Regions from separate parts of the Homo sapiens genome. Here regions 2, 3 and 4 are each reported to be linked to region 1. Evidence: microRNA targets listed by miRTarBase, many of them from high-throughput screens and not tested one by one. Region 1 holds a microRNA gene; each other region holds the end of a gene's coding sequence. Distances are from middle to middle.

Region 1 (8,275 bases):
TGCCACTGCACTCCAGCCTGGCGACAGAGAGAGACTCCATCTCAAAAAGAAAAAAAAAATTGGCTTCAATCATTATGCTAACTCTAAAAATGTTTCCACATCTCCATCCCTCCTTTTCAATGTGAATCTGCAACTTCTACCATGAAGAGATGGAAGTGACTTCTCCACATTTTTTGACTTGCTTTGGGCAAAAGAATGTGGCACAAGTGTTAGTGTGGAGGATGCCAGAACATGTGGGAGAGCACCGATGCTCCCACTGATAGACAACCACCCCACATGTGGGGAACATAGCCATCCCCGACCAGCCAACTACAGTCCATCTGCTCAGACACATAAGCAAACCCAAGTGAGATCAACCAAACCTGGCTCAGATCGTCAAGCCAACAAGCTGACCCTAGTCTCAAAAACAAAAAATTAGTGTTCATTATCATATGTCACTCAAGTTTTGTGATTGCACTATTGTGGCCACAGTTAATTAATACAACAATATTATCATCTACCAAATACAGCATTTTTGCCTTTTAGTCAACATGATAGTAACATCATAACTTTCCACTAAATAATAGAATATAATTTACAAACCTCTTTTTCATATCAGTTATTCCACTGATCCTTCCATAACCCTAATGAAGTAACATAAGGCATCCAATTTTAGGTTTTTATTAAAATTTCTTTTTTTTTTTTTTGAGACGGGAGTCTCACTCTGTTGCCCAGGCTGGAGTGCATTGGCGCGATCTCAGCTCACTGCAAGCTCCGCCTCCCAGGTTCACACCATTCTTCTGCCTCAGCCTCCCGAGTAGCTGGGATTACAGGTGCCTGCCACCACACCTGCCTAATTTTTTGTATTTTTAGTAGAGACGGGGTTTCATCATGTTAGATGGTCTTCATCTCCTGACCTTGTGATCCGCCTGCCTCAGCTTCCCAAAGTGCTGGGATTACAGGCGTGAGCCACTGCGCCTGGCCTAAAATTTCTTATTCAACTAATTCATATATATAGATCTAGAACATCACAGGGTAAAAAAGGCCCTTAATGAAAACCAACAGCCATCAATCATATTCCACTCATCATCCCTTCCATCCAACCACTTTTAACTTTTTCAGCTATTTCTTCTGGTAGTTTCTACCATAACTCTACATTATGTGCTTATAATGCCATTTCTTAATTTATCCAACTATAACAGTGCCCATTGACTTTATGATCTATAAAGATTAGCCCTCATACCCTTTGACTACCTTCTCCCAAACTGCCCAATATAGTTTATCTCCAGACTATGTTGAAAATCATCTTCTCTCACAACTTCAAAGGCATTACTTCTAGATTCCAATGTTAATAGCATGAAATCCAAAGCCACTTCTAATTCCGGAGCTTTTGAATGTCATTTTTTTCCTGTCTTGAAGCATGTAAGGTCTTCTCTTTGTCCGCAGTGTTCTGAAATTTCACAGTGCTGTCCTCTAGTGCAGCTTTGTTTCTATCCATCATGCTGAGCACAGGGCAAGCAGGTCCTTTCAGTCTGGAAACTTGTAACATTCAGTTCTAGAAAATGTCCTTGAGTTCTTTCATTGATGATTTTCTGCCTCCCATTTTATCTGTTCTTTTGAAATGTCTATTATTTATTTATTTTTTTGAGACAGAGTCTCCCTCTCTCACCCAGGCTGGAGTGCAGTGGCACGATCTCAGCTCACTGCAACCTCCACCTCCCAGGTTCAAGCAATTCTCCTGCCTCAGCCTCCCAAGTAGCTGGGACTACAGGCATGCACCACCACACCCAGATAACTTTTGAATTTTTAGTAGAGATGGGTTTCACCATGTTAGCTAGGCTGGTCTCGAACTCCTGGCCTCAAGTGATCCACCCACCTCAGCCGCCCATGAACCACTGTGCCTGGCCTGAAAATGTCTATTATTTAGAGCTGAAGCATCTAATCATTTTTTCTGTATTTTCCACCTCCTGCCTTCATGCTCTAATTTCCTGATAGCCTCAACTTCATCCTCCAATCTGCCTAGTTTTCACTTCTGCCATTACACTCTTAATTTCCAAGAGCCCTATCCTCTGAATACTCCTGTTTATGGTATTCTACTCATTTCCCCAACAGATTATCATCTCTATTTCTCTACCAATATTCATGATATATTTTAAAGTTTCTTCAAAAAGAGCTGATGGGACAGGCTGAGTGGGTAGGTAGGGCTTGTGCACAGGGGCCATAACTGTTCAGTAACCTGTCAGTACCGCAGGTCTTTTTGCTTGGATTAGTCAGACTCTACAAGAAAGTATCCTACAATTTCCCGCCTATATAACAGAAGAGTTAAGAGCCTATGCTCTGATATTAGGCTGCCTGGCTTCAAATTGCAGCTCCAACGGCATGACCTTGGGCAACCTAACCCTAACTTAACCTTCCTTTTGTGCCAGGTTTTTTCTTTGGCTTTTTTTTTTTTTTTTTGAGACAGAGTCTCGCTCTGTCACCCAGGCTGGGGTGCAGTGGTACGATCTCAGCTCACTGCAACCTCTGCCTTCCAGGTTCAAGCAATCCTCCCTGCTTCAGCCTCCCAAGTAGCTGGGATTACAGGCACGTGCCACCACACCTGGCTAATTTTTTTTTTTTTTTTTTTGAGACAGAGTCTCGCCCTGTCGCCCAGGCTGGAGTGCAGTGGCATGATCTCGACTCACTGCAAGCTCCGCCTACTGGGTTCATGCCATTCTCCTGCCTCAGCCTCCCGAGTAGCTGGGACTATAGGTGCCCGCCACCACTCCTGGCTAATTATTTTTTGTATTTTTAGTACAGACGGGGTTTCACCATGTTAGCCAGGATGGTCTTGATCTCCTGACCTTAAGTGATCCACCTGCCTCGGCCTCCCAGAGTATTGGCATTACAGGCATGAGCCACAGTGCCCACCTTGTCCCAGTTTTTAATCAATCTTAAAAAGGAGAAAATAATACTACCTACCTCCTGATTGTTGTGAGGATTAAATGAAACAATACAGATCCAAGACATAGAACTACATTTGGCAGGCCAGGCGCGGCGGCTCACGCCTGTAATCCCAGCACTTTGGGAGGCCAAGATGGGCAGATCACGAGGTCAGGAGATCGAGACCACCCTGGCTAACATGGTGAAACCCCATCTCTACTAAAAACACAAAAAAATTAGCCAGGCGTGGTGGCGGGCACCTGTAGTCCCAGCTACTCGGGAGGCTGAGGCAGGAGAACGGCGTGAACCCAGGAGGCGGAGCTTGCAGCAAGCCAAGATCGTGCCACTGCACTCCAGCCTGGGCAACAGAGCGAGACTCCATCTCAAAAAAAAACAAAAAAAAAAACTACATTTGGCAAATAGCAAACATGCTATGAATATAGCTATTATGAATGTTGCAAATTATGTTACTAGAATTGTCTTTTGTTTTTTGATTTTTGAGACAGTATCTCACTCTGTTGTCCAGGCTGGAGTACAGTGGTACAATCTCAGCTCACTGCAACCTCCATCTCCCAGGCTCAAGTGATCCTTCGACCTCAGCCTCCCAAGCAGCTGGGACTACAGGCATGCACTGGCTAATTGTTTTTTTGTATTTTTTGTAGAGATGGGGTTTTGCCATATTGCCCAGGCTGGTCTCAAACTCCTGGGCTCAGAATCTCGAAGCGAACCTGTCCACTTTGGCCAATTCCAAAGTGCTGGGCTTACAGGTATGAGCCACTGTGCTCAGCAAGCAATTTTTTTTTTAATCAACAAAACATCAATTTCAAATGGTTTAATTTACAATTGCTATTCTATTCAATCTGTTTTTTTCCCAGAGGATTTTCTTTCTGGAACTCTCCTCCTCTTATCCAGATGAAAAATCTCTATTTGTGAAGCTATTATTCTGAAAACTTCTTCATCTCTTTCCTGGGTTAGATCCCCTATTTATTTCTCGCTTTGCTTTCTAATCTTTCTGGAGCGTATCCTCAAGCGTTTCATGATAAAGGGTTGATCTCTCATACACCCTTTATCATGAAACTACTTGAGAATATGCTCCAGTAGGATTCGTGGGAGATCAAGTAAGTTTGATAGGCGCATGGGAGATCAAGTAAGTTCGACGATGTTGTTATTCTTCCTTCAATTATTAATGGCTTGAGAAAATTCTTTTCAACTCAATAATTTCAAATAATTTTTTTTTTGCGGGGAGCCGGGGGGACTTAGTTTCACTCTGTCACCCAGGCTGGAGTGCAGTGGAAAGATCTTGGCTCACTGCAACCTCTGCCTCCCAGGTTTAAGCAATTCTCCTGCCTCACCCTCCTGAGTAGCTGGGATTATAGATGCCTGCCAACATGCCCAGCTAATTTTTGTATTTTTAGTAGACACAGGGTTTCACCACTTTGGCCAGGTTGGTCTTGAACTCCTGACCTCAGGTGATCTGCCCGCCACGGCCTTTTAAAGTGTTGGGATTACAGGCTCGAGCCACTGTGCCCAGCCCAAATAATTTTTGAAATTATTCTTTTAAGATTATAAAGGCACTTCTTCATTGTTTGCTGGCATTCAACATTGCTGTTGAAAGTCTGAGGTCATTCTAATCCTTGTTCCTTTATGTGTAACCTGCTTTTACTTTCTAGAAGATGTGTAGTATATTATCTTATCCCTAGTACTCTGGAATGCCCAGTGATGACAGTATCTTTTTCATTCATTGTACAGAACCTTTTAAATGCTGCCTACTAGTTTTCAACAAGTTAAAAAAATAACTTTGCTATTGTAAAGGTTTTCAAATAAATATTTGTATATAATTATATATACATACTTTTTTTTTTGAGACTAAGTCTCACTCTGCTGCTCAGGCTGGAGTGCAGTGGCAAAATCTTGGCTCACTGCAATTTCCATCTCCTGGGTTCAAGCGATTCTCCTGCCTCAGCCTCCTGAGTAGCTAAGAATACAGGTGCCTGCCACCATGCCCAGCTAATTTTTGTATTTTTAGTAGAGATGGGGTTTCACCATGTTGGCTAGGCTGGTCTTGAACTCCTGACCTCAGGTGATCTGCCTGCCTCAGCCTCCCACAGCGTTGGGATTACAGGCGTGAGCCACCGCGCCCGGTCAATAATATTTATAAATAATTTCTTTCTGTTTTGAGATGGAGTCTCCCTCTGTTGCCCACGGTGGAGTGCAGTGGCACGATCTCAGCTCACTGCAGCCTCTGCCTCCCAGGTTACAGTGATTCTCCTGCCTCAGCCTCCCAAGTAGCTGGGACTACAGGCATGCCCCACCATGCCTGGCTAATTTTCGTATTTTTGGTAGAGACGGGGTTTCACCATGTTGGCCAGGCTGGTCTCAAACTCCTAACCTCAAGTGATCTGACTGCTTCAGCCTCCCGAAGTGTTGAGATTACAGGCGTGAGCCACCGTGCCCAGCCAAATACTTCTGAATAAAATTTTTTTTTTTGAGAAAGGATCTCGGTGTGTTGCCCAGGCTGGAGTCCAATGGCATGATCACAGGTCACTGCAGCCTCTGCCTCCTAGGCTCAAATGATCTTCCTGCCTCAGCCTCCAAGTAGCTGGGACCACAAGCACATGCCACCACACCTGGCTATATTTTTTAAATCTTTTGCAGAGACAGGGTCTCACTATGTTGTCAAGGTGGGTCTCAGATTCCTGGCCTCCTGCCTCAGCCTCTCAAAGGGATTACAGGCATGAGCTACTGTGCTTGGACTTCAAAATAAATATTCTTGGCCAGGTGCGGTTGCTCACACCTGTAATCCCAGCACTTTGGGAGGTCAAAGCAGAGAGATCGCTTGAGGTCAGGAGTTCAAGACCAGCTTGACCAACATGGTGAAACCCCATCTCTACCAAAAATACAAAAATTAGCGAGTGTGGTGGCGCACACATGTAATCCCAGGTACTTGGGAGGCTGAGGCAGGAGAATCACTTGAACCTGGCAGGCAGGGGTTGCAGTGAGCCGAGACTGCACCACTGCACTCCAGCCTGGGTGACAGAGCGAGACTCTGTCTCAAAATAACAACAATAATATAAAAATTAAAAAGTAATAAATATTCTTATATATCCAAAGAATGTCTTAAAAATAATCATTCTGAGATCTTTTTTTTTTTTTTTTTTTGAGATGGAGTCTCGCTCTGTTGCCAAGCTGGAGTGCAGTGGCACAATCTCAGCTCACTGCAACCTCCGCCTCCTGGGTTCAAGCGATTCTCCTGCCTCAGCCTCCTGAGCATCTGGGACTACAGGCCCACGCCACCACACCCAGCTAATTTTTGTATTTTTAGTAGAGACAGGGTTTCACCATGTTCGCCAGGATGGTCTTGATCTCTTGACCTGGTGATCCACCCGCCTCGGCCTCCCAAAGTGCTGGAATTACAGGCATGAGCCAACACACCTGGCCCTGAGATCTTATAAATATAATTCCAGTGACATAATCTTGCTCAAAGTATTTTCAAAACTTTGGGGAATTTTTTGTAGAGCTTGAAGCTTTTTTTTTTTTTTTTTTTTGTCGCCCAGGTTGGAGTGCAGTGGCACAATCTTGGCTCACTGCAACCTCTACCTCCCTGGCTCAAGTGATTCTCCTGCCTCAGCCTCCCGAGTAGCTGGGACTACAGGTGTGCGTCACCATGCTGGCCAATTTTTTGTATTTTTAGTAGAGATGGGGTTTCACCGTGTTAGCCCAGGATGGTCTTGATCTCCTGACCTCATGATCCGCCTGCCTCGGCTTCCCAAAATGCTGGAATTAGAGGCATGAGCCACCGTGCCTGGCCGCTTGAAGCATTTTTATAATTAACATAGAAATATAGCAAATGACAATAAACACATCAATAGTTATATGCTACTTTTGGTTTACAAAAACAAAAGTATAGAATACTTTTATTTTTTCTTTTTGAGACGGGGTCTTGTTCTGTCACCCAGGCTGGGAAAGCTGGGAGGTTTAGCTTGAACATGGCTCACTGCAGCCACGATCTCCTGGGCTCAAGGATCCTCCTGCCTCAGCTACTCGTGTAGCTGGGACTGCAGGCACACATCACCACACCCAGCTTATCTTTCTATTTTTTTGTAGAGAAGGAGTCTCATTTTGTTGCCCAGGCTCTGCTTCCCACTTTGGGAAGTGGAGGTGGGAGGATTGCTTGAGCCCAGGATTTCAAGACCAAGGGCTCAAGTGATCCTCCCACCTACACTTCTCAAAGTGCTGGGATTACAGGTGTGAACCACCACACCTGGCTTTATAAAAATACTTTCGGCCCGGTGTGGTAGCTCACACCTGTAATCCCTGCACTTTGGGAGGCCGAGGTAGGTGGGTCACTTGAGGCCAGGAGTTTGAGACCAGCCTGGCCAACATGGTGAAATCCCATCCCTACCAAAAGTATAAAAATTAGCCAGGTGTGGTGGCTGGTGCCTGTAATCCCAGCTACTTGGGAGGCTGAGGCACAAGAATTACTTGAACCCAGGAGGCAGAGGTTGCAGTGAGCTGAGATCACGCCTCAGCACTCCAGCCTGAGTGATAGGGTGAGACTCTGTCTCAAAAATAAAATAAAATAAAATAAAATTCATACACATTGTCATTTGATTCTCACTGCAAAAAAATAACTTGGCCAAAAGCAATTAGCATGTTCCAAATGATAATCTATAGTTAATTCAGTTTTTCCAGTTAATCTTCGACCTTTGGATATTTAGGTTTTTCTAATTTTTCACTATTACAAACATCTCAAAAAAGAAATAATGGGGGCCAGATGCGGTGGCTCACGCCTGTAATCCCAGCACTTTGGGAGGCTGAGGTGGGCGGATCACGAGGTCAGAAGTTCGAGACCAGCCTGGCCAACATGGTGAAACCGTCTCTACTAAAAAATACAAAAATTCGCTGGGCGTGGTGGTGTGCGCCTGTAATCCCAGGTACTCGGGAGGCTGAGGCAGGATAATTGTTTGAACCCGGGAGATGGAGGTTGCAGTGAGCCTAGATTGTGCCACTGCACTCCAGACTGGGGGACACAGCAAGACGCCATCTTGGAAAAAAAAAAAAAGAAATAGTGGGTTAAAAATAAATCTGGAAATTAAGGCTATGCAATGCCTCACTGTGTACATCTAAGACTTGGCAATACTGAAAACACCTGTGTCAAGACTGTTCATTTGTAGCCCAATAGTAGTCAGACATAACTGCTAGGCTGACCAACTTGCTTTTGTTCAGATTTTATGCTGTCAGTGGACAAAGCTAGTGAATGGCACATCAGGACTAGAATTTAGGTTTCCTGACTCTTAAGCTCTCTCACCAAGAAGAAAAATGGGAGATAAACTGGAACAGTGTAGATTGGAATTGAGCCCTCTCATAGCTAAGG
Region 2 (8,275 bases), 47 Mb from region 1:
TTTAGTAAATACTGGAAAGGTTTTCCGAAGTGATAGTACAAGTGTACATGCCCAGCAGCAGTGAATGAGAGTTCCAGTTGTTTCACATCCACACCAACACTTGGTACCACTCGCTGTTTTTTGTTTTCTGTTTTTTGACTTTAGACAAGAATATCATAGATATGCAATGATATTTCATTGTAATTTTAATTTGCATTTTCCCATGACTAAAAAGTTGAGCATGCTTTTATATGTTTATCTCCCACTTGTATATCCTGTTATGAAGTTTTAAAAATAGGTTGTCTCTCTTGTTCTTATTATTTACACAGTTTGAGAATCAAAAGAATACCACCAAAGCCTCCCTGATACTAATATTTATCTCTGATAATTCACTCATTTGTTGTTTTCTTTTAGAAGACTTAGAGAGGCTGAGGTGGGTGGATCACCTGAGGTCACGAGTTCGAGACCAGCCTGGCCAACATGGTGAAATCCTGTCTCTATTAAAATACAAAAAATTAGCTGGGCGTGGTGGCACGTGCCTGTAATCTCAGCTACTAGGGAGGCTGAGGCAGGAGAATTGCTTGAACCTGGGAGGTGGAAGTGGCAGTGAGATGAGATTGCACCACTGTACTCCAGCCTGGGTGACAGAGCAAGAATCTGTCTCAAAAAAATAAAAAAGCAGGAGGCCTGGATCAGCAGCACCCCACTCTACTGGTGCCAATTTACTGTATTAGCCCATTTTCATGCTGCTGATAAAGACCTATCTGAGACGGGACAATTTATAAAAGAAAGAGGTTTATGGGACTTACAGTTCCACATGTCTGGGGAGGCCTCACAATCATGGCGAAAGGTGAAAGGAACATCTCACATGGCAGCAGACAAGAGAACAGGGCTTGTACAGGGAAACTCCCCTTTTTAAAACCATCTGATCTCGTGAGACGTATTCACTACCACGAGAACAGTGCAGGAAAGACCCGCCCCTATAATTCAATCACTTCCCACCGGCTTCCTCCCACAACACGTGGGAATTCAAGATGAGATTTGGGTGGGGACACAGCCAAACCATATCAGAGGGGTTTATGCAAAAACAAACAAACAAACTTGACATTTCTTGTCAGAGTCAGATGTTCTAGAAGGGATGCTTACACAGGGTCACAGGGTAGGGAGCAGATCCAGGTCTTTCTTTTCTTTTCTTTTTTTTTTATTTTGAGACAGTATCTTGTTCTGTTGTCCAGGCTGGAGTGCAGTGGTGCGATTTCGGCTCACTGCAAGCTCCGCCTCCTAGGTTCACGCCATTCTCCTACCTCAGCCTCCCCAGTAGCTGGGACTACAGGCGCCCGCCATCATGCCTGGCTAATTTTTTGTATTTTTAGTAGAGACGAGGTTTCACCGTGTTAGCCAGGATGGTCTCGATCTCCTGACCTCGTGATCCGCCCGCCTGGGCCTCCCAAAGTGCTGGGATTACAGGCATGAGCCATTGTGCCCGGCCAGGTCCAGGTCTTTCTGATTCCTTCCATGTCACAGCACTTCATAAAGGCCCCTCCTCCCCATCACACTACTGGGATTATTTACTCATTATTTACTAGACCTACATTCTAGGCTCTCGGCTCCTGAAAGGCCGGGCTCTTTTCATTCATTTTGTTGGGTCAGTGCCCTAACCAGACTTTAGCTCTAGGTGGGTCTCAGGGAAGCCCTCCTCAATAGCAGGTCCTCCTGCTGAGAGCTCTCATAGCTCCTCCTGCATTCTTTCTTCAGAACACTCATCCCATTTCTTAGTTACATATTTGTAATTTGACTGTTTGTATTCGTCTTTAGACTATAAGCTCCTCGAAGCTGGCATCCCATTTTATCTACTGTTTTACTTCTGGTGTTTACCAGTGCCTGGTACACAGGAAGTGATTAATAAATATTAGTCAATGGATAATTGAAGTCATTTAGATCAGAATCCCAGATCTATCCCATATTAGATGTGTGAACTGAAACAAGATTCTTAACAGCTTCAGTTTCTCACTCAGTAAAATGAGACTATTCATAGCTACATTTTTTATTCTGTATTTTTTTATTGATATATCATAGTTGTACAAACATTTGGAGTACATGTGATACTTTGATACATGTGTGTGATATACAATGATCAAATCAGGGTAATGGGGATATCCATCATCTAAAACATTTATCTTTTCTTTATGTTGGGAACATTGCAATTCTTCTCTTCTAGTTATTTTGAAATACACAATAAATTATTGTTAACTACAATTTCTCTAATATACTATCCAATATTAGAACTTACTCCTTCTATCAATTGTATTTTTTTACCTATCAACCAACTTCTCTTCATTTCCCCCCAATCCTATCTACTTTAACAGTGGTTTTTGAAGATTTAAATGAAGCAGACTGCATGAAAGTACCTGCGTCAGGATTTTGCACATAAACAGTTCTTTGGAAATACTTTGGAATCAACGAATGAATGTACGAATTTATTCTAACTGGCAGGAATCTTATGCAGATTTCTAGCTGTTAAAGTTTTTGTTTTTTTCCATCTCTACCTCAGAGGAAATTTAAGTCCTCATTAATTCCTAAGGACAGGGTCAATGTTTTGCAATTCTCTATGTCCCTGCAGCCTGTTTAATTGGATGGTTACCAAGAATCATGTGACTTTTTGACCCGGGTGATGATTAATTGGTTCAAAATTGCCGGGAACTATTCAGTGCCAGGCAGACATGCAGGATTTGCAGAGGATAAGACTTGCTTCTGCCCCTGAGAATCTGACAGTCTTGATACAGATCTTTATGCATGCAATTTTGGTACATTAAGCTAAGAGGTTACCGATGTCTGCACCCAGCATGCTCCGAGCCAAGCCCCGGAGGAGTGTGGCTTGGGGGAAGCACACCTGAACAGAGTCTGCAGGTTTAATGAGCAAAGAGTGGGGGTATTTCTCAAACCTTATTGTGCATGTAGATCACCTGGGGATCCTACCCAAAGGAAGATTCTGATTCTGTAGGTTGGGGTGGGGCAGGGGTTCTCCTAGGTCTATATTTCTACCAAGCTCCCCAGGGATACAAATGTTGTTAGTCCGTGAACCCCATTTAAAGAAGCAAGTCAAGGCTCACAGACTGCCATGAGCAAAGAGGTATAAAAACAGATCTTGTAAATCTCATCTTTAACGAGCAATAACCCAAGGCTCAGAGAGGTTAAGAAACGTGTCCAAAGTCACATCACATAGCCAGGAAGTGTCAGAGCCAAGACTGCAACCTGGGTCTGAGTCCCCAGGTCCTTGTTTCCTTCTCCACATCATGCTGCTCCTCACAATACCACGCAGCTCCATTGTTTCCTTAAGTCCGCATGAAACGGGGCTACTTCTCAAGTTTGGTTTGTCAAGTACTGTTGGAAGATAAAATGGAAAGACTGGGGTACTCGGATCAGGAGGCTTGGGCTCTGGTCTCACCAGTCCCTCCACTCCCTGGGTGCCTTCCCTCTCCTACCCCCACCAACAAGAGTTGTTCTGCCCCTCTGGACACTGGTTCTTCAGATTTGAAGTGAAAATTTGGCCTCTGGCCTTAAGGATCTTACTAGCTACATTTTGGGGCTCAAACGGACATCACCACTTATATAAAAATGCTGTGAAATTGCTGAGCTATTCCAGGGGCTGGAGGGGACTGCATTGTCCAGCAGCAAAGAGCAGGCTGACCTTGGTGGCAAGAAACCAGACATGAGCCACTTGGGTCTATTTCCAGGCCTTGAAGCCAAATGGAGCATCCCTGGCTGGATTTTTCTTTCCTTTTTTTTTTTTAGACAGAGTCTCACTCCACTGCCCAGGCTGGAGTGCAGTGGTGCAATCTCGGCTCAGTGCAACCTCTGCCTCCTGGGTTCAAGTGATTCTCCTGCCTCAGCCTCCAGAGTAGCTGGGATTACAGGAGTGTGCCACCACACCCAGCTAATCTTTTGTATTTTTAGTAGATGAGATTTCACCACGTTGGCCAGGCTGGTCTTGAACTCCTGACCTCAAGTGATCTGCCTGCCTCGGCCTCCCAAAGTGCTGGGATTACAGGCATGAGTGAGCCATCATGCCTGGTCCCTGCTGGATTTTGAAGTTGCTGGGGACTGATGACTTCTTTTTTCCGTCTATTTCTCTCTCTCTCTCCTTTTTTTTTTTTTTTTGAGACAGTGTCACTCTGTCGCCCAGGCTGGAGTGCAGTGGCGGGATCTCGGCTAACTGCAAGCTCCCCCTCCCGGGTTCACGCCATTCTCCTGCCTCAGCCTCCCAAGTAGCTGGGACTATAGGCGCCCACCACCACGCCCGGCTAATTTTTTTGTATTTTTAGTAGAGATGGGGTTTCACCATGTTAGCCAGGATGATCTCAATCTCCTGAACTCGTGGTCCGCCTGCCTCGGCCTCCCAAAGTGCTGGGATTACAGGAGTGAAACATCACGCCTGGCTTCTCTCCCTTTTTAAATAGGAATGTCTATAACTGTTATTCTATGCCTGTTTCACCAGTGAATTTAGGGAGCAGATAACTTGTTTCTTAATTTTCACAGGTTCATAGAGAGCAATGTATTCCAGGGTGGATTAAACATGGAGCCTCCTTTTTACCTAATTTGAATGGGTTAGTTTAGATGATGAGATTTGGGGTGTTTAAGTTGTTAAGATTTAGGATTTTGACTTGATACTGCCATATCCTAGGTCTTTAGGGGATGTGGGGATAGGGTGATCTGTTTTGCATTTGGGATGGATGTGAATCTTTTGAGGGCCAGAGGGTGAACTCTGGTACTCTGAATAATGGTTCCCGAAATATGGCCATGTCTTAGATCCCTGGCATCTGTGAATATATGTTCCATGGCAAAGAGGAATTAAGGCAGCAGATTGAATTAAGTTTGCCAGTGAACTGACTTTAATATAGGTGATTATCCTAGATTATGAGCAGGTCTGTGTAATCAGCAAGGAGGGCCTTTACATGTGAAAGGGGTGGCAGAAGAGGAGAACCAAAGAGATGGCAGGGTGAGGACTCTACCCAATGTTGCTTCCTCCATGTGAACATGAAGAGGGCCACAAGCCAGGGAAAGTGGGTGGCCTCTAAAAACAGAAAAGGCAAGGAAACAGCTTCTTGCCTAGAGCCTCCAAGATTGTAAGACAATACATCTATGCTGTTTTACGTTTGTGGTAATTTGTTATAGCCGCTATAGCAAATTAATATAAGACCTATCCTACAATTTAATGCTCTAGGATCTTAGACTAATCATTTCATCTTTGCATTCTTTAGTATTCTTTCTTTCTCAAAATAACTGCTGTGAAGATCAGACAGAACAAATAGGCAGAAATCCCTGGCACACAGGTGCTCAATAAATGTGAATTTCTAGCTTCCCCTTTTCTTCCAGGTTGGAGAAACACAAGGAAGGGAAGCAGGAGCCACAGGCCATTCTCAGCCTTCCTTTGATGTGGGCTGTGTACAGGATTCCCTCAGTAAGCTCCCCCAGCATACCTTATCTAGAGTGAGGGCTGCTTATCTGCCCTCGGGGTTCCTACAGCTCCTACCTCTCTGATGGAAAAATCCTCTTTAGAATACAAAAGCTCTTTAGAAGAGCCTGAGATGAGGGTAGAGCCAGGGCCTCATTCTGCAAACAGGCTTTCAGAGATGAAAGAGCAGGGCAGACATCGGTATCTACCCTATGACCACCACATTTCCCACTGAAAAAAATCAGGAGTTGGTGCGCTGAGATGAGGCAAGCCCACTCAAAGAGGCCAGCCCGCGATGCTTCCTTCTCCTACCCACACACCTGAGACAAACATCTCTCAAACACTCCAGGCTTGCAAGTCCTTAATTAGTTGTGTTACGAGCTTTTATTTAAAAAGCACATTTAATACAAGTATAGTTTCGCAGATACAAGTTTTCACTTTGTATGCTACAAAAGTCTTTGAATATTATTCTCTTTACAAAATGGAACCTTACAAAAATACTGACAATTTAATGTTTTTATACAGTTTTCTCTAGTTGCAGTTATTTCATTATAAAACAATGTCTACCACAGAACTATGATATTTTAGTTGATATTTAAAAAAATTAACTCAATGCTTTTTTAAGCAGCTAATGTAAATAACACAGGTCGAGACACAGTTTATAATCATAGTGGATATAGCTAAATTGTTTCAGAAATAATATCTTACATAGTTAACTTTTAATGTTTTATACATTATTTATATAATATTTATATATAAAAATCATAGCTTGCTATAAGTTGAAATGAAAGGACGGATTCTGTAGTAAGGATGTGCATGTGGTTGATCCATATGGTTACATTTAACCCTTTGAAAGGTCTGCATCCAAGATCTAAACGCATTTCTTCCTTCCTCCTTTCCTCAAAGGTTCAGTAGAAGGGGTCCCTGTCTATCACCTAGAGTGGGACCTTGCATGGAAGGACACTTACGGATAGAGGATGAGGGAAACTCTCTACCGAGATTTAACCCATATGTTCTGCCCAGCAGAACCTACCAAGAACTGCCCTAGGGCTCAACCCCAAGACAATAGTGCTTTACACAGCAAGAGCAACTCCTACAAAGACCCTCAGCTCTGTCATCCTGAAGGGTAACCTCTCATGCATGAGACTGCCTGCTTCTCTGGCTCCTTCTGATTTGCAACAGCTAAAAGGTTGGTTCGATTTTCATTCTGCCCCCTTCACCCTCCCATCTGTTGTACAGAAGGCTGCTTTCCGTCAGCTGGTGGCAGACCATGCCTTGCTCATTCCTGGGCCCTCACAGGAAATCCTGGTGGGCACGCAGCAAGGATTTCAAGGGAGAAGGCAGTAACCGAAGTCGAACTGTTTCTAAGAGTATGCAAGTGCCCGGTGATTGACGTGCACAACATCAGCATCCTGCAATTGACATTTCAACATCACAGGATGATGCGTCAAAAGAAGAAAAGTGAGGGCCTGTGCCCTCGATTTCTTCTGAAATTGTGCTGTTTGTGAAATTCACTCGTCCACAAAGAGTCTGCTAATCACTAATGTGAGGAACTATGGTTGTTGGCCTATGGGCAGGGGAGGTGATAAGGCCTTAGAACTGGGAATCTAGATTCGGGATCTGATCACTTGACTGAGCAAACTTGCTCTTTCCTTTTATTTAAAACACAAAACAAAACTTCCTGAACTAAAGTCACAGTACAGAATAGAATGGGATGGACAGAAAGACTCAAGAGGGCAGCTCCGCAATGGCTATTTTCTTGATTCAGTGCTATTTCTGGCATCATGTGCTGCAATGTGAATTTTTGCTTTTCTCACAGGCCTGGGATTCCTCAGGTCACAAAAGGTGACCAGCAGCCTCTACTCAAATCGTTTTAGTGTTTGTTCCTGAACAAGCTGTGTTCACTAGAACATGAACACTTAAACCAATTGCACATCCAGGACTCTGGCACTTGGTGTTAGTTTGCTGTTGTTTCCACATAGGCAAACACTACCTATTTTGGAAGGCCACATAGTAAAACATTTTTTTTTTCCTTTTTAAAAATCAGTCGGGCAAAAGTTTTTCCCTACATTCTACTGTCTGATGAGATTGGAGAGCAGCAAGAACTTGCTGTCAGCAGTCATTTTACAAAAACAGCTCAGGAGGTGGGTGGCACCTACATCATGTTGTGGTGATTGTTCCTGTCAATAATGTCCACAGGTGAAAGGATTTCCTTCCGGATAGCAGGGGCAGGCAGGGAGAGCGTCGTCTTAGTCTTGAAGAGGTCAGACACGAAGAAAACCTAGAAGCACAAATCAGAGATCGAAGTCAGTAACTGACATCGGGGGTCTGGGTACAGAGGGAAAAGGAAGGTCAGAGGAGCGCAGACTTCAGGAAAAGGGGCCCCAAATCATAACTCTTTGAATAGGGAAGGACAACAGAGATCATATCATCAAGGTTTATTGTACAGATAGGGAAACTGAGACCCGGGAAAAGGCAGTGACATGTCCCAGGTTGCACAACACTGGTTCAGTAGAATCCACTTCTAAGGACTCTCAGTCCATTGCCCATATCTGCAACCCATACTTCCTTATTTCTCAAGGCAAACGAATAGCAATGAAAGATAAGTTCCTCAACAAAGGAAGCAGGTCATAATTAGTGATAGTCATTAATTCACACTACTTTCCCTTTCCTCACAAAGGAATCCAGGGTGTAACCGAAAAAGATCAGCCAACATGAACTCCTATCAGCAAGAGCTGAAGTCAGGCAGTGGTAACTACTTTTTCCTGAAAACTTAGTGATATCAACCATTTGACGGGGGTCAAGAAACCAGGTTCTCGTTGCTGAGAAAGTTGGCAACTAAAC
Region 3 (8,275 bases), not on the chromosome of region 1:
TTTTAAGTGTATACTTCAGTGGCATTAAGTACCTTCACAATGTTGTATAACCATCACTACTATTTCCTAAATTTTTCCATTGTCCAAGACTCTTTGTGCCCATTAAACAATAACTCCCCATTCTTCCCTCCCAGAAGCCCCTGGCAACCATGATCTTTCTCTTTGAATCTGACTACTCTAGGTACCTCATATAAGAGGAACCATATAGTATTTGCCCTTTTGCGTCTGGCTTATTTCACTTGGTTAAGTTTTCAAGGGCAATCCTTGTTGTAGCACCTGTAAGAACTTCATTCTGGGCCAGAAGTGTTGGCTCACACCTGTAATCCCAGCACTTGGGAAGCTCCCAGCACTTGGGAGGCTCCCAGCACTTTGGGAGGTCGAGGCAGGTGGATCAGCTGAGGTCAGGAGTTCGAGACCTGCCTGGCCAACATTATAAAACCCTGTGTCTACTAAAAATACAAAAATTAGCTGGTGTGGTGGTGCGCACCTGTAATCCCAGCTACTTGAGAGGCTGTGGCAGGAAAATCACTTGAACCCAGGAGGTGGAGGTTGCAGTGAGCCGAGATCGTGCCACTGCACTCCAGCCTGGACAACAGTGAGACTCCATCTCAAAACCAACAAAACAAAAAAAACTTAATTCTCTGTTATGGCTGAATAAGATTCCATTGCGTGTATATATCTCAGTTTGTTTAGCCATTCATCTGTTGGGCTGTTTTCACCATTTACTGTAAATAATGCTGCTATGACCATTGGTATATCTCATGTTAATACAAGTATAAAGTTCATCTTGTATAATGTGGCAGAAAGAAAGGTGGGATACAGGATATGTAGTTTTAATGTTGTTGTTGTTGTTGTTTTGAGACGGAGTCTTGCTTTGTCGCCCAGGCTGGAGTGCAGTGGTGCGATCTCGGCTCACTGCAAGCTCCGCCTCCCAGGTTCACGCCATTCTCCTGCCTCAGCCTCCCGAGTAGCTGGGACTACAGGTGCCCGCCACCATGCCCGGCTAATTTTTTTGTATTTTTAGTAGAGACGGGGTTTCACTGTGTTAGCCAGGATAGTCTCGGTCTCCTGACCTCGTGACCTGCCTGCCTCGGCCTCCCAAAGTGCTGGGATTACAGGCGTGAGCCACCGCACCTGGCCGATACGTAGTTTTAACTCAAGTTTAGGAGTTCAGAATTGAGCCTTAGGGAATGAGTGAGGGATATCCCCAAAGGATTTTTTAGTTGTGTCATGATGGCACCTTTAAGAATGACAAATGAGCAGCCTAAAGAACTTGGGGTGTGGGGAGCAGGGGGCATTGGGGTGGGGTGGTAGTAGTAGATGAATGGAACCTAGAGACCAGTTAGCAGCTGATCAACAGTCCAGGTGAGAGATATGAGGGCTTAAAGTAGGATGGTAAAGGAAGGTTACATGTAATGGATCTTTCACACTGCAAAGGAAATAAAGGAGTTGAAACTAACCCCAGGGTTTTAAGCCTGTATTACTTACTCTCTTACCTCTGCTATGCCAAGACTGAATAATTAATGAACTTGAGAAAGAAAGATATTATGAAGTGGTTAAGACTTCCATTATCTACAAATGGTGTATCTAGTGAAATTTACTATTCGACTCTTTGAAATAGGGCAACTCCAGCTTCCAAGACCACTTTCAAATATACTTAAAGTTTAGAGCTCAACAATAACAGACCTTGACCGGATGTCAACTGAACTGAGGCTGACATCAGTACATGTGAAATAATGTGTAACCCCTTCTAATCAGAGAGCTGAACCCAACCCGTCATATCTAATGAATGGCAGATCTCTGGGAGAGACCATCATTTGCTGAGGGGGTGATTCCCAGTGACTGACTCAATGACAATGGCATAATCATGAGAGCTGTTGAGGGACCTGAAATAGGAACTGTTTCCATGGGGAGCCACTCCCCCACACTTGCTGGGCTTCAGAGAAAACTCGGAAAAAAACTGATGTTTCAAATTTATCTTAGCAAAGTAACCTTTATCAATGTGTTCATTCATTCATACAAATATTGAGCACCACTTATGGAGGCACTATGCTTGGATGTGGGCCATCTGTGAGACCCATGGCACGCAGAAGAGATTCATTCAAAGAATTGGGCAGATAAATAAAAATGACAATCATGAAATTTTCTACTAAAAATGTTGCTTTGAGAGTGTATAATAGGGAAAGCTGATCTGTAAAATCAGGAAGGGAACATTTGAGCTCAAACCTATAACAAAATTTGGGGCCCAGTAAAACAGGGCTGAGAATAGTTCCAGCACTTCACCAGTGTGGTGGAGGCGGACAGGGATCACAGAGTAAGCAGACACACTGTTGCATCTGTGGCTGGAGAAGTAGGTGGGGAGCAGCCAGTCCATGCAAGGCTTCGGGCCAGGTTAGAAGAATTGAAGCCTTTCTTGGCAAAGAATTTATGGCTAAGTCCTCAAAAGCAATTGCCACAAAAACAAATATTGGCAAGTTGGACCTAATTAAAGACCTTCTGCACAGCAAAAGAAACTACCAACAGAGTAAACAGGCAATCTACAGAATGGGAGAAAATATTCACAGACTATGCATCTGACAAAGGACTAATGTCCAGAATCTATAAAGAACTTAAATAAACCCACAAGCAAAAAATAACCCCATTAAGAAGTGGGCAAAGGACATGAACAGACAATTCTCAAAAGAAGACATACAAGTGGCTAATAAACGTATGAAAAAATTCTCAACATCACTAGTCATCAGAGAAATGCAAATCAAAACCATAATGAGATACCACCTCACACCATTCAGAATGGCTATTAAAAAGTAAAAAAAAAAAAAAAAAAAAAAAAAAAAAAAAAAAAAAAAAGGTCAGGCGCAGTGGCTCACTCTTGTAATCTCAGCACTTTGGGAGGCCAAGGCAGCCGGGTCACCTGAGGTCAGGAGTTCGAGACCAGCCTGGCCAATGTGGTGGAACCCCGTCTCTACTAAAAATACAAAAATTAGCCCAGCATGAGTGGTACGCACCTGTAATCCCAGCTACTCAGAAACCTGAGGCAGGAGACTTACTTGAACCCGGGAGGCAGACGTTGCAGTGAGCCGAGATGGTGCCACTGCACTCCAGCTTGGGTGACAGTGTAAGACTCCGTCTCAAAACAAACAAACAAAAACAAAACAAAACAAAAACCAGAATCGTGGTGGGCTGTGGAGAAAAGGGAACACTTATACACTGTTGGTGGGAAGGTAAATTAGTTCAGTCACTGTAGAAAGCAGTTTGCAGATTTCTCAAAGAACTAAAAATAGAACTACCATTCAACCCAACAATCCCATTCCTGGGTATATGCCCAAAGGAATATAAATCATTCTACCATAAAGACCCATGCATGCATACGTTCATCACAGCACTATTCACAATTGTAAAGACATGGTATCAACCCAGGTGTGTCTACCCATGGTGGATTGGATAGAAAATGTGCTGCATACACACCATGGAATACTACACAGCCATAAAAAAGAACAAAATCACATCTTGTGCAGCAACATGGATGCAGCTGGAGGCCATTATTGTTAAGCGAGCTAATACAGATTCAGAAAACCAAATGCTGCATGTTCTCATGTATAAGTGGGAACTAAACATTAGGCACACGTGGACACAAAGATGGGAACAATAGACACTGCAGACTACGAGATGGGGGAGGCAGGCAAGGGTTGAAAAACTGTCTATTGGGTACTATGCTCGTTACCTAGGTGCTGGGTTAAATCATACCCCAAACCTCAGCATCATGCAATATACCCATGCAACAAACTTGCCCATGTGCCCTCTGAATCTAAAAGTTGAAGAAAAAAAAATTAAGGTCTTTATACTACAAGCGATAGAAAGCCAAAAACACATTTTAAGCACAAGGATGAGAAGATTACATTTGTATTTCTTGAAAGATTGCAAGCTACAGTGTAAGGGACTGAAGTGATGTGAGAACATGAGTCAGTGAGCTACTGGAATAATCTAGGTACACTGCCTTGGCTAGATTAAAGAGACTGTGAAGAAATGTTATTGGCAGGCTGGGAAAATGATGGGCAAGAAAGACACTGGTGCCCAAGTCTCCCAGGTTTCTGACTCATGTAATAGGATGAACAGAACACCCATATGAATGTTGTTTTTATTCATAGCTACTTCTTTGTAAGGTTTATTCTTAGAATTGACCTCTTGTTATCAAGTTAGATGTCTTTTAGTGTCCCTGAAATTTTGTGGCATTAAACCACATGACGGTGTTCTGTACCAGCAACAGTGGAGTGATGTCGAGATAGGGCACGACAAAGCCCCTCGGAGCCAGTCTTTCTGCTGTCCCATCCCCATTTCCTGAGCAGAGCATATGCGTGCATGCATGCGTGTGTTAATAGCCACACTCATGGGGGAGGATCAGGTCCTTCTGTCACCCTCCTTCAGAGCTTACACAGCTCTGATAAGAAACTATTTGTCAAAACAAATGTCATTTCTGAGAACACAATTTTACATGCACCGATGGCCTGTCACAATTTTTTTTTTTTTAAATGGAACAGTCCAATTTTACTTCATGAGTAAATGCCCATTAAAATACAGGGCCACCTCTATGGCAACCCAAGGCAGAAACTTCCATACCGGTTAATTTGAAGCAGTAAGAAAGACTAAAAAAAAAAAAAAAAAAAAAAAAAAAAGCACTTAATGGAAGGAACGTGTAACACTCATTTGTAAGTTAGAAGCAACTTCAAATTCACACTCCAGACTCCATGTTGATTTTTTAAAACAACTAGGGTCGACATTGACTTAACAGAGCAATGGATGTGCTGGGAAGAGATGGATATAACGAAGGAAATGGATGACGGGGACAGTGATTGTTAAAACAGGTCATGAGATTGCAGGCTGAGCAACCCTGTTTCATAGCACAGCCTTGTCTCTTATTAAAAAAAAAACCTAAAACTTTGAGGATGAGATTCAATGATGTATTTTTTAAAGCCTTCTTAGGCAACCAAATATTTAAATATATCTGCTTTGTTCCCATCTTCAATCCCTCAAAGGGTACAGACACTGCATACTGTATACTCTGTGGGGTTTTTTTTTTTCAATCTTGTAAAGACAGGATATCTCTACCGTGCAGCTGAATAAGGCCTTTGATGTCATGCAAATATTACTTCTGGACTAAACACATACAATACTGAAATTATTAAACATACAAACTTAGAGCTTTCAGTGCATTTGCCATTTTTATTTCGCTATGCAGAAACATACATTCACCATGGGCTGTGATGCAGGTGATCGTGTAATGGAGAATCTCTCTTTTTGAAGGCTATTTATAACTAACACTAAATAGTTTTAATTACAGTGGAAATTCTGTACAGTTTAAGGCTTGGCTCTGAACTAGAATGTAAATATGGACCAGATTTGAAAATAAAACACTTTCTTTTCAAGTAAAAGAAGAAAAATCAATTAAAAAATACACGGCACGGAAAAAGTAACTAAGAAAACAAAGCCACAGGAAGCCCAGCAGTTTCTCCTGAAGTGAAATTTCATAATATTGTAAACTAACAAAAATACAGGTTTTCTTCCCAAAATAATGACAATTTAAGCTCTCTGGATTGAACACAGACCAAAGCAAACAACAAGGAAGAAATCGCATTAATATGCTAAAATCAGTACTACCTTATAACAAATTAAATGAGATACACAAAGCAAGATTGGAAGCATTACATATTTCCAGAGGGTCAGAGAGTCATTACTGTTTATGGGTGAGAGTAATAAAACCAGATGAAACAAGTACAAGTTGTTTACTGAATAAACTTGGTTATTGGCACATCTAATCTGAGGAAAATCTGACACACCGGACGGACCTAGACAGCTTCTAGCATTTGAGGGTAATCTTCATTTATTGTAAATATAAGGTTACCTAAGAAATTGCAATTTTGTTTAGACTTTAATAATAATAAACTATGAAAGGCATGAATTGTTTATGTGTTACATGAGACCACGGTTTATATTGTTGGTTATGAACGTGCAGGTATAGCTGAAAACTGAGACATTTTGTGAAAATTAAAAATGCTGCTCTTTTGTAATTTTATCGTTGCTTCATGCATTATCGGTTTAGTGATGCTGAATCAGATTGCTTTATTATGGGAAGATCTCTCTGCCAGTGTCTTTATTAATGGTCAAGGTCAATTCTTCTGGACTGAAATTTTCCACGGACAGATACAAGTCAGTTGGGTTAGAAGAGGGAACTCCATATAGGCTCTGGTTTTCCTAACGGTTTGCATGACTGCATTCATGTGCAAGCTAAGTTATTCCTGCAAAAAAGACATTTGATTAGTTACTCATTTGAAAACAACTGAAAGATTTTCTCAGATCAAGGACACAAAAAAAGTATCCTGGAAGTTAGAATGCTCGTTTGGACAAGATGCCATGACATTCCAGCGTTAAGTCACTGCCAATTACATGCTTTCTCTTAAGTAATTACAACAACGCCCAAGTGGCTGAAGCTCATGGAAGAAATCTGTTTTATTTTTTTTGCTATCGTCCAAAATATATTATTCATTTGAGTAAAATGAGTATTTTTTATATTTCTCTTTTAAGAGATGCCACTCATCAATTTGTTTCTTAAACCGATGTTAGAAAACTTACTAATATATGAAATCTCTTAAACATTTTATCACATCACCAAGTTGTGCAAGTCGCTCGACTGCTGCATTCAGCATTCAAAGCCCTCTCAGAAACGCTCATGGCCCCATGAGATCTTGCATGGCAGGTGACTATGCATGACAAGTCTGTGCTCACATAGATGATATAGTCTGCTCATGATGCTGGCCAAACAGTCACTGGAAAGGTATGTGCTTTCTACAGGACCACAAGACTGCATTTTTTTTGCCTCCTTCTGAGACAGTGCTACGCTAGGGAGAAAAATCATCCCAAAGAATACAGGAAATATAAGACATCCAAAAAGAAAGTGAGTGCTCAGCTTTCAAATTAAAAAAACAAAACTAAAGACAAAAGCATAAACAGGTTACAATCAAACACAGTTGAAGAGAAAGCTTACGACGGGATAATGTTGCCATCAGAAGGAGAAAGGGGTATATATTATTTCCCTAGTATTTGGAACACACAAATTGAGCCTCTCAGAGCAAAACTGCCTTTGTTCCAATTAGGCCACATGGCAAGTAAAATCAAATTTGCCATTACAAATTTGGATAATCAAAGAGTGCAGGCCATGGAATAAAAGGGAACACCAGGAAGACCACACAAGCATAGAAGCATAGACTCTGCTCTTCCTTTATCCTCTAACTGGCAGTGCATGCAAAAACTCCACAAGAATGGAAGCTCCAAATGTGAGACAAACCCATAAACCAATTCTCCATCCTCTTGGTAACCAGCCCAACAAATGCCAGTGAGAGAACAGAGGAAAGGAGGGATCAGGTGAAGGATGAGAGGGAAGTGCCCCATGCCTCATGCCAGCCTAGGCAAGCCTAGAGAATCGGCATCACCTCTTACCTCTGGTCAATCCTCTCCATCTTCTGGTGTGATCTCTGTCTCTTTATGGACCACTACTTTGGTCACTGACATGTCAGGGTGCTGCTCTTTGGCCTCTTTAATTGCCTGAGCCAGCGCCTATCCCCGGGAAATCACAGAAGGGCAGAAACAAAAAGGAGGTGGAACATGCATGATCAGTGGTGAGGTGGAGACTTATGAGCTAGATCTATATCCACAATTTACAAATGAGGTACAATGATTACAAAAGGAATCATAAATCATATATTGGAAAGTTAATTCGGAATTTTCTTCGGAATACATGCTGGACTAGAGGAATAGCATTGAAACTGTAGGACCAACAGGTTTTTCTTTGTTTCTCTGCCAGGGTATTTACCGTCTCACACACACTACCTGGTCATGGTCAATGTCTGCATCCCCCGTGATGACTATTCGCTTCTCAATTCTTGTCTCTGAAATGCCCCCTTTCACAGTCTGCAAGACACGTAGAGAAGCTTTATGAATTTACTCACTGGGAGAAACCATCATGGTTCAGTAGGGGGAAATGGCCGAAGATGCTGACATCATTCACTCTTCGAGAATTGAAATTAGAGTTCTATGGCACTTATTTCACATTTTTAATTCCAGAGGTGAGGACGGAATGGAGGCCCTTGGGTCTGGATGGCCCATGTTTCTGGAACACTACCACATGCCAAGCACTGGAGTAAGCATTAAGCTTAGGATATCAGAATGTATATTCCTAAAGGGGAACTCGCACGTGAGGACAAGTGCATCGTAAATCTAGGGGCTG
Region 4 (8,275 bases), not on the chromosome of region 1:
TGGTTTATATTTTAATAAGCCAAATATAATCTCTTGTAGAAGAGAAGCAAATACGAAAGAACATTTCTGATTCTGAACAATGGAAGAGGAAAGTCATTGATTATTTTTTAAAGAGGAGGAAGACAGTAAATATTCAGAGCATTCCTCTTTTTTAGCCCTCAATGAACAATTATATTATATTCCCTTTGCTATCTGTTTAGCCACCATTAACTAACATGGCAATTCAGAAGTTGGATCTTATTTTTTTAGAAGCCATGGGGTAACTAAAAACAAAAAAGGTATTAAATAAGGAAAAAAGCTTAAGCATTACTAATAAGTGAAAGTTACTCTATTCCAGAGCCACAAATAAAAACAAATAAATAAAAATAAATGCATGCCAATGGGGGGTGGGAGGTGAATTAGTCACATTTAGTAGCACAACTTTTTATAAAGTTAACTGATTATGATACACATATATTGCTTTATGGTTAGTGGATTGTTTCAAAAATGCATGATGGCCATTAAATTCTTTGCTAAAATTATTGTGTACAGAACACCAAAGTACCGTATCCATCTTTTACTCCAGATTACTTGTTTTCCTACTGAAATGGTCAGTTTGGTGCTGCTAGACCATATCTGTAGGTTATTCGTTTTATTATTGCAATGGTCCCCTTTATTTGTCTACCAATTTTACAATTTAAGGCAATCATCCTTATGAAATTTGAGCATCCTAGTTTGTCATGGTCCAGCCAATAGCAGGAGTTTTAGAGGGTCTAGGTCTGGGGACAAGTTCCTTGCTTCGGCGAAAGCAGAATGGTTGAGGAGGTCACCCTGTCAGCTCCAAAACAGCTGAACCCCTTTTTTTTAAATCTATGCTTCAGTGCCCTCTGTAATCATCTCTAACTGGCAAGGCTAACGTTGCTGGTTCCAGCAGTCTCATCTCAAAGATTAAGGAAACTTAAATATCCTTAAGATATTCTTGAAAGTCAGGGACCAAAAATCTGAGTTTCTGGGTAAGGAATTCAGATGAGGAAAACATGCCACAGATGTTCGCATCCACGCCTGACAGTAGCAAGAGTCTTACAGGTAAGAGGCCCGTCCCTCCTCACCCAACAAGGGAATCCTTTTGAACTTCCCAAGTTATATCCAGACCACTGGAAGCAACTGAATAAAGGTCAAGCACTTCACAATCACATGCAATTGATCCCTGGACCTGTTAAAGATGGGTTCCCAGAGCCCAGCATTTAGCCTGGGAAGTATTCGTCATTGAGTGTACTTTTATCAGTTCTAGTTTGACTTAAATAGCACTGCATATAAAGGAGAACAAAGGATCCTGGGTCATAGTCAGGAACAATAAAATAACATACTCTGTTTAAAAAAAAAAAAAACCCTAAAAGAAAGAAAGAAGAATAACCTGAGTTGTTCCCTATCAACAAAAGCCACCAACCTTTTATTGAAAATACACTCAACAATTGTTCTATGAATGAATGAATAAATGAATACAGGAAAACCTGATTGTGCAGACCTTTCTTCTTTAAGGAAGAAAAATCCAGCCTCTTCTCTCCCACCTTCAGCCCAGGCTGGTTGCCCTATCCATGCAGAAGCGGTGGGTTTCAGGGCTGAAAGGAAGCGCACTTGGCCCTGAACTCATTTTGATAAATCAATTTTGGGGGTGGTTAAAAGATAAATGACAAGGACAACAACAAAATCCTATGACTTTCAAAATTCCAAACCTCTAAAACAAAATTTTCTCAAATAACCTAAGAGCACTTCTTTCTTCTTTTCTGTCACTCAAGACATACTGAACATGGATAATAGAGATTACTTTTGCTTGCATAGCCTGTACTAATTTTTCTTCTCTCTGGCTGTGTTAAAAACAAGAACAAACACAATGATAACATTTAAAGACTCTTGGGAACAAGACTCTTTAACTGGGGTCCATTAACCCCCTGAGGAAACCATGGATAATTTCAGGAGGTCTCTAAATTTCCTGAATTTATATGTAACATTTTATGTATTTGCATATATGTGTTTTTCTGGGAATAGGGTATAGAACTTTCGTTGGATTATCAGTGGAGTTCCTGACAAACAAAAAGTGAAAATTCACTATTTAATGGTATGTGACTCACTCTCTGAGCATCTTTCCCATGCAACCTTCAGGGAAGGAAGTGATGAGTGCTTCATTTTCAAAGGAAGAGATTATAATCAGCTGGGAAGCCTTCATGTGAAGCTGACGAAGTCAGACCTTGAGAGATGGGCATGACTTGGGCCAGTGGAGCAGAGAATAGAACATTTCAGGAGAAGGACTGGCATGAGCAGAGGCACAGAGGTGGGCCACATGAGGCTTTTTTAGGCAATGGCAAATGGATCAACCTGGCTGCACTGGATGGCTCCCATGGAGGAGCTATGGAGACAAGGTGAACAAAGGTGAAAACACCAGACCCTAAGGAGTAGCCCCTCACCCTGAGGCAATGCCACACCCCATCAGGGCCAAAGAGCTTTTTAGAAAGATTAATCCATTTGTAGTGGATGGAATGGAACAGGGAAATGGCCAAGTACGTAAAAGAGGCTAGAGAAGTCTAGGCAAAAGAGGATGCCCTGAAATCAGAGTTCTATGCTGTTCTATTTGCCACTCTACAACCAGTGTAGATCCCAGGGCCAGGCACAGGGTAGGTGCTCTGTAAATATTCAGCAAGTGAGGGAATGGACATGGGTTCTTTAAAAGATACATAAGGAAGTATGAGGAGTCTTGGTGATTTGGGAATCCATCTTGCTATTCTTCAGAGTCTAGCAATACCCTGCACTGATGAGAGGTCTCTTGTATTGGTCTTGACCAGGCTGACAGGACATGGACAAAAGCGAAGTAGGATTCCAACCAGGGAATGGCTGGAGATGTGCTGGTTGTCTGAACACAGGGTGACTTCTCAGGTAACATGCATTTTATAAGACAACAAAGCCACAGTGGTATAATGGAAAGAACCATCAAGGGCAAGGTGGTATAATAGAAAGAAACCATCAAGGGCAACGTGGTGTAATGGAAAGAACCATATTGACCTCAGTTTTTGGTCCTGCCCTTCAAATAAGTATGTATGTGACACTGAGCCAATAAGGTGCTTTCTACAGCTAATTTTTAGCACAGCTATACATTTCTATGACTCTACATTATCTCTCAAACAAATCTAAGCAAGACCCACAAGGCCAAAATCCTTAGTATGTCTGTTCCTTGAACCTTAGCTATTTCACAAAAATATACCCTAACACCACAGTATACATGGGCAGGGCTCACTTGAGGAGTAGACTGCAGTCTGATTCAAGTCCAAGTTGTTCCAGGTCCGTGATTAGTCTCCTGGGTAGCCCACAGCCTTGGTAGTGTCACTTTCTACAATTCATTATGTAACAACAACAAATTGGTAAATGCTGACAATATAGTTCATCATTGCATAAATATAGATTGTCCTTATATCTGTTCTGATGGAGAGTAAAGCTCAATGATTCTGCTCATTAATCTTGTTGAGTGGGGGTACAGATGGGCAAAGAGAGGTGGATGCAAGAGCTTGATTTACTTTTACAATGACAGGAAAAAAAGAACGAATAGCCTATGGGTCTGTTGTCCAACCAAAAGCATCTGTTAACATTAAAGATCACATACTTCAAGTTACCTTCCAGCAAAAAGGAAACACAGAACTTGAACAAGAAGCCAGATGACCAAAATGTCCCTTAACTTCTTATAGTTTTTTCCTATAATTAGCACCTGTTCATGAAATTGGAGAACATTTCAAATCTGGGTAGCTTAAGAATGAAGCACATAAAATTAAATCCTTCCGGATAAAGACTCACACTATGGTGACTTTGTCTTGGTTATTTTGTTTGCATAACCCGCCTTGGGAAAGTAAAGCAGGGGCATATTCTAGGGCTCTAAATCAAATTAACACCTACAAAATGTTGATGCCCAGTTATATGCTGTCAGGCAATTGCCCAAGACTCCAGATAGCAATGTCCATTCATGCCCCTGTAAGAGGTACCTGGATGGAATGACTTATTTTACAACTTCATTTTCAAAGTTGGTTCTCCACATACTTGTATTCCAAGTAATATAAAATTAAAAACATATATTAATCTACATTCTCATAACTTAATCATCCTTTGAGAGAAAATACATCACACTTGGTACTGTACAGTAAGATAGATTGTTCATAGAAAAAAATTCAAATACATTTCTTTTCTACTAAAATGTGGTGGGAAAAGGACAACCCATGCTTTGTGGAGACAGGTCTGCAGTCCACCTGTTCATTATATTCATATTTTCAGTCCAGGAGTCTCCCTAGTCACACAGAAATGCCACCAGTTGGCCTTAAAACACACTTGCTAGAGAGAGGGGAGGCAAACAGTCCTCCCAAATGATGCTGCAGCCTCAAACAGGCTTATCCATTCATATCTTCTCCACCACATTCTTATTAGGCATCAAACAGTCCCTTTAAATAAGAATGGTTTTAATAAGATATTAACAACTAAGTTTCCCATGGAATAAGAATTTCTAACTTAGGGTATCTCAGCACGTATTCCCAGTTACATATGCCCTACACAATTGCTTAAGTGGTAAGCAGTCTGAAAAACTCTCCTCCCTTTACCTCTTTGTGAATCTACAGCAGTCTTTTAAGATTGTTTTGCAAATGCTATATTCAAAAAGAGGTTTTTTTTTTTTCAAGTAAAGTGCATGGATTTCTCAGAAGTTGCTGTATTTTAAGAAGTGCCTCTTTAACCCCATAATGAGCAATCCTTATGTTGGTCAGAAGCAAAGCAGTTTTGTTTGCAATTGTAAATCTTGGCTCTCCTAGCCCAAATCTCACAGCCATCACCCAGGATCTCTGCCCCATATTTCCCTGGAAAATGTCCTAAGTCAAAACAACAACAACAACAACAACTTCATCTTTAGAAATAGGGTGCCTTCACAAATATGGGTAAGCCAACAGTTCATCGAATACTATAGGGAAAGAGAGAGAGAACGGGGATGAGACAGCAAAAACATTAAGACTTGTTCTCAGCATTGCTCTCCTCTCACTGGGCAGTGGCTGAAAACACCAGAAAAGTTGCATTAATAAAACTGCATATAGTCTAACACTGCACAGAGTGCTTTGATACAAGTATCCTCTTGCTACTTCATCTTTTCAATACATCTTTGCAAGGTTTGTTTTCAAAAAGACATTACAAGTTGGCAGGCTTCTGCTTATAAAAATCAATGAAATACTTTCCCTTCAACTCTATGAAACCTGCCATATACCTGAGATTTATTCTTCTCAAATAAATCAAACATAGGCAACGTAACACTCTGGAGTCAACACAGAACATGCCAGGGTGAGTTCAGGCAATGAAAGAACCACTTTTCTGCAAATACATGGTAGAATTGAAGACTGTTTGTAGCTGTCGATAATTTGTAAAAACATTTCCAATGTTCTTTGAACAAAAGATTTTGATTCAGCCAAGATTACAGAAAGGAATCATGACAAAGTCCTAAGTGTACCTTTGTGTGTATTTCATCTGCTCAGCTTTTGCAGGTGACTGTGGTGGTGGTTGCCTGGATATGGAATTCCTTTGCCCTCAAATCTTCACATGCATGAAGTGCAATAAAGAATAAAATGCTGTGTTTATGTCGCACCACTTCTAAGAGGTTTAAAGCGCCGTACGAATGTTACCACATGAATCCCCACAACACCCCTGTGAGGTAGGTAGGTGGAGAGTATTGTCATCCCCACTTTACAGGTGGGAGAAATGAGGCACCCAATAGTTAATAAGAGATTTGCTCAAAATCACACAGCTAGTCACTGGCAGGGCTTAGAATAAAATGTATACTGATTAGCACCTAGCACAGTGCTTTGCACATAGTAGGTGTTCGTTTAATATCTGTGGATTTTATTTGACTTATGTCTCAACATACAATATACACACATAAAGTACAAGCAGCCACCGTAAAACATTTTTCTGATGATATCTCTCATTACTTCAAATCCTGGTGGAGGAAGGAGGTTCAAGAATCCATCTCACAATTAAGACCTCAGGGTTGAAGAGGATCATCATAAAAACTATCAGCTGACAACCAGCTCTTACACCTGCTCTACCACACAATATTATTAATAGTTTTCTAATGAAAACAAAAATGGATTTCAGGAACCATGCTGACATTATTTTTTGCCTGTTTGTTTTCAATGGAGTCATCTGAATGGTTCTGTGTTTTGTTTGTACAAAAAAGAAATAAGGCTGCTATAGTCCAGTTAGCATGTGAAAACTCTGCCAAGCACGAAGATCTCCTCCCAGCTCGGATGGATTGCTACCTGGGAAAATGGACCGACCCAGGGAGTGGCAGGTCCCAAGGAAGAGGGTCAGTGAGGCTGGACGTCACTTGCACTGTTCGTGGTCTGTATAGTCATCCATGTCCACATCCGAATCAAAGAGTGAGTGTCCAGTAAAATCTGTGTCTGGGGTTCTGGAAAAACTGTTTTCTGCTCCCTCATCTTCAAAGGTCTCTGTCCTTGAGTAAAAGCTAAAATCCAGCAGCGGGGTGTGGGTTTTGCTGCCTTCGCTGCTCTCCTCAGACTCATAGATGGTATTGTCATCATCGTGGTGCCACTCTGGCCAAAATTTCCTCCTTATCCTCTCACAGTACATGGCAAGGTTGATCAGCTCACCTGCAGTGTGGTAAGGAAAGCAAGGATTAGTTCTCAAAGGCAGCAGTCTACCACTTCTATGGTCTGTGTTGCCCCAAAACTCCAATGTTGAAATCCTGACTCCCAATGTGATGGTCTAAGGAGGTGGGGCCTTTAAGAGGTGGTTCGTTCATGAGGCCCAAGCCCTCATTCGTGGTACTAGTACCTCATAACAGAGGCCTGAGAGAGCTGCCTTCCCCCTTTTACCATGTGAGGACACAGCAAGACAGCACTGTGTCCAGGAAGCAGGAAGTGGTCCCTCCCCCAGGCAGGCCCTCGCCAGATCCTGAATGGGCCAGAGTCGTGATCCTGCATTTCCCACCATGATCCTGCATTTCCCAGACTTTTCCAGACTCCACAACTGTGAGAAATACATTCCTCTTGTTTACCAGCAAACAAGTTTATGGCATTTTGCAACAGCGGCCCAAACTATGACATCCAGCCACTAGGCTTTCTGGGAAACTGGAATAACGGGGAAGGTAAACATTAACAGTATTTTTCCATAGAGATACTGTGAAAATATTTAGGTTTTTATGCACATAATAAAAACGGTGAGTGAGAAAAGTTACATTCAGTGAGTGTGCTGAATGAAATGAAGAAGTGAGTCCGATGATGATGAGAAGTGGCAAGGTAGTTTATCCAAAATGGCAGATAAACTACCATCATTTGGCTTTAGGAAGCATTTTATTATTTTATGTTTACATATCAAGAGAGCTAATGCTGTGATTGGTTCATATATAAATTAATTTATATTCCATAAAAATACGTCAAACTGTTGGTTGCATTAAGTCAGCCAGAAGTAATCATTTACTCCACAAATTTTCGCAGTGTTGCTGTGGGCTGAGTACCATGCCAAGCAGCTGAAAAAAGTTATGTTAGGACATAAACCTTTCCCCCCAAAAAATCCATAAAATGGATAACTCAGAATTGTCTTTATGGATAAGTGTGCCTGCAAACACACTTAGTATAAGATATTTTTAAATTTTTACATGAAATTGAACAGCGGTACTCAGGATCCGGGTCCCACTCGGTCACTAGATTACTTCTTTTTTATGTGAATCAAAAGAACTCTTGTGTTAAGTCACTATTACTGTCTAGGCATTTGTCTGAAACATGCCACTCTACCTGGCCTTCATTTCCTAATTCCAAATGAAAAAGAAAGAGGGTGAGTTTCTCCCTGTGATCCAGCAGATGGCAACATTGCTTATAAATATATGATTTGCTACTATCTCTTATAGGACATTATTACTCTAAGAATGTCTTTGGATTTGAGTTATATAAACATTCACTTATTGTGTAAACAATCCATGTTTTAGTGCAGAAAATTAGAAAAAACAGATAAGCAAAAAATAAAAGCATTACCAATAATCGCATTCCCCATAACATTTTCATTTATGTTCTTCCAGAAAGGTACATATTTACATATACATTTACATATATTTACATGTGCTATATAGGATTTACTATATATTCTTTTTCCTATCCTATGTTTTTCCACTTAACAACGTATAATAAAAATCTTTGAATGTCACACTCTGATCACAGTGATAAGTGCACACTATGTTATATGGCTGTACCATAGCTTCAGTTTGTCTTTA

The links. The annotated mature microRNA hsa-miR-5697 reads UCAAGUAGUUUCAUGAUAAAGG and lies in region 1 at 3,965-3,986, opposite strand. An mRNA with a match to its seed (bases 2 to 7 or 8) in the 3' UTR can be bound and repressed. Matches are read on the target gene's strand: a 7mer-m8 pairs with bases 2 to 8, a 7mer-A1 pairs with bases 2 to 7 and ends in A, and an 8mer does both.
Region 2: miRTarBase lists PLPP3 as a target of hsa-miR-5697. The part of its 3' UTR that is shown has no 7-base or 8-base seed match.
Region 3: miRTarBase lists EPB41L3 as a target of hsa-miR-5697. Seed matches in the 3' UTR shown: 7mer-A1 at 5,417-5,423.
Region 4: miRTarBase lists FAXC as a target of hsa-miR-5697. Seed matches in the 3' UTR shown: 7mer-A1 at 4,681-4,687.

The regions. Positions count from the first base shown.
Region 1 is chr1:9,963,101-9,971,375 of GRCh38, reverse strand. It overlaps MIR5697 (microRNA 5697), which reads right to left and starts at 3,995; the gene lies at 3,918-3,995. All of the region lies in intron 1 of NMNAT1 (nicotinamide nucleotide adenylyltransferase 1), which reads right to left.
Region 2 is chr1:56,488,965-56,497,239 of GRCh38, forward strand. PLPP3 (phospholipid phosphatase 3) reads right to left here. Exons shown (of 6, transcript NM_003713.5): 6 at 5,797-7,712. The coding sequence ends at 7,587. Among named protein-coding and RNA genes, the nearest start is that of LINC01767, 78 kb to the left of the region's middle. RefSeq lists enhancers at 1,433-1,932, 5,113-5,771.
Region 3 is chr18:5,387,189-5,395,463 of GRCh38, forward strand. It overlaps EPB41L3 (erythrocyte membrane protein band 4.1 like 3), which reads right to left. Exons shown (of 23, transcript NM_012307.5): 21 at 7,879-7,959; 22 at 7,489-7,605; 23 at 5,198-6,290. The coding sequence ends at 7,495. Among named protein-coding and RNA genes, the nearest start is that of ZBTB14, 96 kb to the left of the region's middle. RefSeq lists an enhancer at 8,245-8,275.
Region 4 is chr6:99,274,795-99,283,069 of GRCh38, forward strand. It overlaps FAXC (failed axon connections homolog, metaxin like GST domain containing), which reads right to left. Exons shown (of 6, transcript NM_032511.4): 6 at 1-6,659. The coding sequence ends at 6,370. Among named protein-coding and RNA genes, the nearest start is that of FAXC, 71 kb to the right of the region's middle.